Linked DNA regions of Homo sapiens: region 2 is linked to region 1. A link means that fine-mapping ties the variant in region 1 to the expression of a gene that starts in the linked region. Tissue or cell type: whole blood. Region 1 holds a variant in brackets; the other region holds the start of a gene. All regions are shown on one strand. Distances are between the middles of the regions.

What was found. PIP is the estimated chance that this variant, and not a neighbour inherited with it, causes the effect.
Region 2: SELENON starts here. The variant in region 1 is fine-mapped to the expression of SELENON in whole blood (INTERVAL, PIP 0.96).

The regions. Positions count from the first base shown.
Region 1 is chr1:25,702,073-25,704,748 of GRCh38, reverse strand. All of the region lies in intron 2 of MAN1C1 (mannosidase alpha class 1C member 1), which reads right to left. Among named protein-coding and RNA genes, the nearest start is that of MAN1C1, 87 kb to the right of the region's middle. RefSeq lists enhancers at 229-729, 730-1,230. The variant C/T (reference allele first, on the strand shown) is at 1,352.
Region 2 is chr1:25,798,649-25,801,324 of GRCh38, reverse strand. SELENON (selenoprotein N) reads right to left here and starts at 1,132. Exons shown (of 12, transcript NM_206926.2): 1 at 912-1,132; 2 at 165-282. The coding sequence starts at 1,094. RefSeq lists a silencer at 1,268-1,407 and an enhancer at 1,217-1,938.

The sequences.
Region 1 (2,676 bases):
CTGCCTGCTGAGATGAGAAAATTTGGGGGCACAAATCAGCTCTCTGTAAGGAGAGACATTTTAACAGGATCAGCCGGAGTTCGGGGAAAACTGCAAAGTCTAAGCATTCTTGGTGTCATAACTTTGTCAGCTGTGTTAAAGTTGACAAGATGCTTACCCAGCACCTCTACACATGTACCAAAGGGAAGTGGTTAAATGTGTAAGCCATAACAGCCATCAGGGATTCTCTAGCAAGCACGTGCTGAGCAGCCAAAGCCACGCTGCCAAGTGATGCCCAGATGTCGCTACTGCTTCCCTCTTATCTCCACATTGGGAGCCACATGGTCCTGCTGTCTGGGATTGGGTCTAAGGATAGGATATGGCTTGGTTCTGTCGGCCGCCCATTCCCAGCATCTGTACTGCAGGCCCCAGGCTGGCTTGGAGGCAGCTCAGAGGCAGCTCCTGCCTTCAGGAAGCCATTTCTATTGCAGAGCTGTTCTCCAAAGACAGAAACACAAGTCCAACTTACCTCACAAAGGCAGCAGCAGGACTGGGGGCAGGAAGGAAGTTTAATAAAGGGGCTGGGTGGCTAGAAAGAGGCTGTTCTCAGCCTCGGGAGAGATTAAAGGAGTGGGCCTGAAACACTGCGGGACTGCTTTCCTGGCTGGTTGCTATTGATCAGGGAGACGAGGAGAGACAGGAGCCGGGATGAAGGGACAGGCAGCCAGAAGCATGTGGCAGGGGCGTCTGTGGGCAGGCTGGATGATGGGATGGGCTTGGGCAACCAGGAACTGGGCAGACAGATCCCGCCAGTGCCCAAGAAGGTGGGCCCTTTGTGACCCAAAAGCTCCTTGGAGGTTTGTCCTACCCAAAGCATCCAAAAGCTTCTGGGTGGCCATGAAGGAAAGCAGGGCTGACATCCATCCACACCTCAGCCCCTTTCAATCACACTTCAGAAGCAGTGAGGAGAATCTCCTGTGATACCTTGAAGGTAGGATTAGCCCCCAGGCATCACATGGCCAGAGGACACCTCATTTTCACAGTTGTTCTCCTCCCATCTGCAGATCCCACTTTCATTTCTTTTTTTTTAGACAGAGTTTCGCTCTTGTTGCCCAGGCTGGAGTGCAATGGCACGATCTCGGCTCACTGCAACCTCCACTTCCTAAGTTCAAGCAATTCTCTTGCCTCAGCCTCCTGAGTAGCTGGGATTACGGACATGCACCACCACACCTGGCTAATTTTGTATTTTTAGTAGAGATGGGGTTTCTCCATGTTGGTCAGGCTGGTCTCGAACTCCCGACCTCAGGTGATCTGCCTGCCTTGGCCTCCCAAAATGCTGGGATTACAGGTGTGAGCCACCGCGCCCAGCCTA[C/T]AGATCCCACTTTCACCAAACATCAGCTGAATGAAAACTCCTAGATGTGCCGGCTCCACTCACGCCTCAGGGCTGTTCTCCAGCCACCACTGCTTCCTGTGGAACTGGTGACCTGCCACACCTAGTAAAGTGGGACCCCCACCCAGGCAACAGCCTCAGCACCCACAGAGAGGGCAGGAGCTTCCCCTTTGCTAAAACACCACCTGAGCTAATGGGAGTGAGGGAAGGGGACCAATCACTTCAGGATCCTAACCCGGTTAACTGTGGCTCCCAACCTGGGTTGTGCATCAGAACCATCAACAGAGATGCTATTTTTAATGCAGATCCCTGGGCCAGCTCCAGACCCAATGAACCAGAATTTCTGGAGACGGAACATGGAAGTCTACATTTGCAAAAGCCCTGCAGGCAATTCTGATGCTTCCTCCTGGCGAAGAGCAGCACAAATTCATCCAAACTGTTCAATTCACAGAGTCTGAGTCCCAGGGAAGGGTGAGGAAAGTGATTTGTCCAACGCTACATAGGCAGTCACTGGCACGCAAAGATGCCACCCAACTCTCCTGCTTCCCTGGGCAGCTTTGACAATACTAATGGTAAAGATAATGGTAATCATGATGACAGCCACTGCTATTTATTGGTACTACTTTAAGCCCTTCACAGTGTATTAACTAATTGGATTTTCACAACTACCCTATGAGGTAGGTACTATAATTCCTATTTTTCCAGAAGAAATTGAGGCACAGAAAGGTGAATTCACTTGCCCCAGGTCACACAGCCAGAAAATGGTGAACCAGGCCCCCTGGTGCCAAAGCCTGTGCTTCTGTTTAACTGCTTCAAATCCCTGGGATCCTCCCTCCAGGGTTTTGCTTCCTCCCCATTTCAGTGAGTTGAGCTGTAGACTCTGGTATGTTTTGGGGGGATGGGCCCTGAGGAGCTGCCTGGCTTTGCTCCTTGGAGGAGAAGGAAGAGCTGCAGCCCCGACCCTCAGAGCCTGGGAGAGCCCAGGGAGCGTGCCTCTCCACTGACTGTGGGACCCACTTTTGTACTTACATCTGGATCTGGGCGAGTTTCATGTCCTGGGAATTCAAGGCCCTTCGGATGAAGCCACACTGCCAGGGGCGATGTGGGCCCTGCTGTCAGCTCTGGCTAAGAATGAGAAGCGGCTTGCCCTGGTCCATCTGGGTGCTCAAGTTCTTTCTAAGCAGCCCCACGGGGACATCCTCTTAGGCCGGCGATCGTCATGCATTAGCCTCCTCTCGGGTGTTTGGGATTTTATCCTTCTTGGTTTGGGGGATGTAACTAACTAATTTGGCTTTACTTTTATTTAC
Region 2 (2,676 bases), 97 kb before region 1:
GAGCAGCTCGCCCAAGCCACCAGCTACAAAGTGTCAGAGCTGGGAGGAGTCCAGGGCCTCTGAGATCCCACGAGCTTCCCTCCACTCCAGACGGCCGCTCCTGCTCAGTGAAGACACCGTTGGCCAAGGCGCCCTCCTCCCCAGCCGCCAGTCTCTCCTGGTACCTGTTAGCTTCTCAGCAATGGGTTTGAACTCCTCAGGGCTGATGTACATATCCCCGTCAGTGTCCAAGGAGGAAAAGAGAAAAAGGCCATCTGTCCCCAGGGTCTTCAGCGCCAGTTCCTGCTTGGGAGGAGAGACTGGGCTGGGCACCATTTGGCGGCCTGGTCTCCTGGTCCCCAACAGGCAGTTGCTTCCGCATGGAGCCCCTTCTCCCACCATCTTCCTGAGCTCTCCCAGTGCCTCCCGGTCCATCTGTGCAAATGTTGCCTCTGAACTGCCCCAGAGCCTCCAGTCCCTCCTGGTCCCTGCTCATCCACTGTCTGGTCCGACTGCCCCCTCCCAGTTTGTCCCCACTCCGCCTTCCGCCTGGCCCTGGCTGCTTGGCCCTGTTCCTCCTGCACCTTCTGTCCTCTCCTGTGTCCCCTCCTCACTGTCCCAGGGCTCCCCAGTAACCCTTTAAGACTCTGCGGGAACCAGCTTCACTGTGTCCAGGTCACCCCTCTGGATAGAGACCCCTCCAGTCTGTCCCAGCCCCACACTGGCCTCCGTTCGCCTTCCCCCCATCAGCCCGGCCCCAGGCACCCCCCACCCGCCTCCCGTGTCCCCTCCTTCCCGTGCTCCCTCCCGTCCAGTCCCCCTCCGCCCTCCGCCTCCCCCGACTCGTCCATGCCCATGTCCCCCCTGCTGCCGAGGCTGGGTCCTTCAGTCCCCGCTCCCGCGCTCCCGCCCCAGCCAGCTCGGGCCCGGACCTGCCGCGCGGCCGCCTGGGCCTCGGCGTGGCGGGCGCAGACCCGGACGGCGGCGGCAGCGGCGGCGGCCAGCAGGGCTCCGAGCAGCGCCAGGGAACGGGCGCGGCGGCGCGGTGGCGCGGGAGGCTGCGCGGCGGGGCCGGGGCTGGGCGGCCCGCGTTGGCCCGGCCGGGCCCGGCCCATGGCTGCGGCTGGCGGCGGCTGCCGGCGGCCCGGGAAGCGAAAGAGCGGGGCGGGGCCGGGGGCGGGGCGGCCGGGGCGGGGAGGGGCGGGGCGGCCGCAGGGGCTGGGCGGGGGGTCGCTGGTTCCCGGCTTCGCAGCCCGGCCAGAGCCCGGGGCGGGGTCAGCTACACCGGAACGCCAAGAGGGGCTGATCGCGTCTATGCGGTCGGGTCCGTAGTCCCGGCCACCCCAGCCTCCCCAGGCCGCTTCCTGCCTCTCCGCGCCCCTTCCCGTGCTTCCGTTCCCAAAGCTAAGCCAGGCCTCTGCGGCCCACTTGCCTGGCCCAGCCCAGAGAGCGATTCCAGACTGGGGACTGGGACAAAGAAGGGGCTGGGGAGAAGCCACACACCCTGTGCTTTCCTGGAGAAGGGGCGTCGGGGGCCTCTGAGGCCTCGTGTCCTCCTCTGCTGGCAGCCGGGCACGAGGCCAGAGACTGCTGAGGGGCATCCGTCCATCCTTATCCCACCAGTTTTCTAAAAGTTCCTCTGTCATCTAGAGCAAGACAAATTAAAAAGAAAGCCCAGCCCCTGTTCCCCTCATGTGCAGTTGGGGGGCCACCTCCGCAGATGCATGGGTTATGGGGATTGGCCTTGTTCCAGGCACAGCAGGTGCAGCTCTGAACCTGCACTTCCCTGGGCCCAAATTTCCTCATCTCCACCAAGGAGTTAAAAGAGCCCCCCAACCCCCACCCTCCGGGCTCTGGTCTGGTGAGGGGAAGGCGAGGCTCCAGCCCCTCAGCAGCTGGAGCTACCAGAGGCCCTGGCTTTTCTGGAGAACAGCATGCGGCATGCTTGGAGGAGGGCCTTGGAAATAGGGGTGGGTGGTGTTGAGGACATATTTTCATGCCTGTCAATCCCCAGGACCTTGGTTCCTTGGGGCTCTCTTCCATTCTTTCAAAGCCCCCAGTTACCATGGGGTGGCTCTAGATGTCTCTACCTGCATTTTCTCAGGCGAGGGTGGCAGCTGCAGAAGCCTCTAGACAAGAATTCTGAGCCCAGAGGTGAGCAGTGCCTGCCTTTGCAGAGCCCCACCAACCCCCCCAGCGCAGGGGCACCTGTCAGGCCTGAGGGATCCAAAGGATGCTGAGCTCTGCCCATGTGCTGGACTTCAGGTGGGGTGATTTACACATTCTCTCACTCTGTTCTCAAGCCACCTTGTGAGGTAGAGACTGCTTCCCTGGTTTTCAAATGAAGAAGCCTGACCTCTGGCACCCAGGTCTATGGGTCCAAATCTCCTGCCATCCTGCCTCCCAGGCTTCCCACGGGATGACCCGGTCGACTGAGTTGGGGGTGGGGTCCTGCCTCCACTGCCCATCCTGTTCTTCTTTGGTGGCCAGCCATGGCAGCACCAGGTGAGGCCTTCCCAGAGCCCACACAGGGCGTGGCACATCGTGGGCACTCCTCAGTGTCTGTCAGATGAATGACTCCCAGGGACCTTCCAGAGTTGTGGGCCCACCCAACCCTTGCCCTGTGCTCTGGCCCCAGTGTCCTTAGAGGGACCCACTGAGAGCCTGACATCTGGCGTTGGCTTCTGAAGGCTTCCA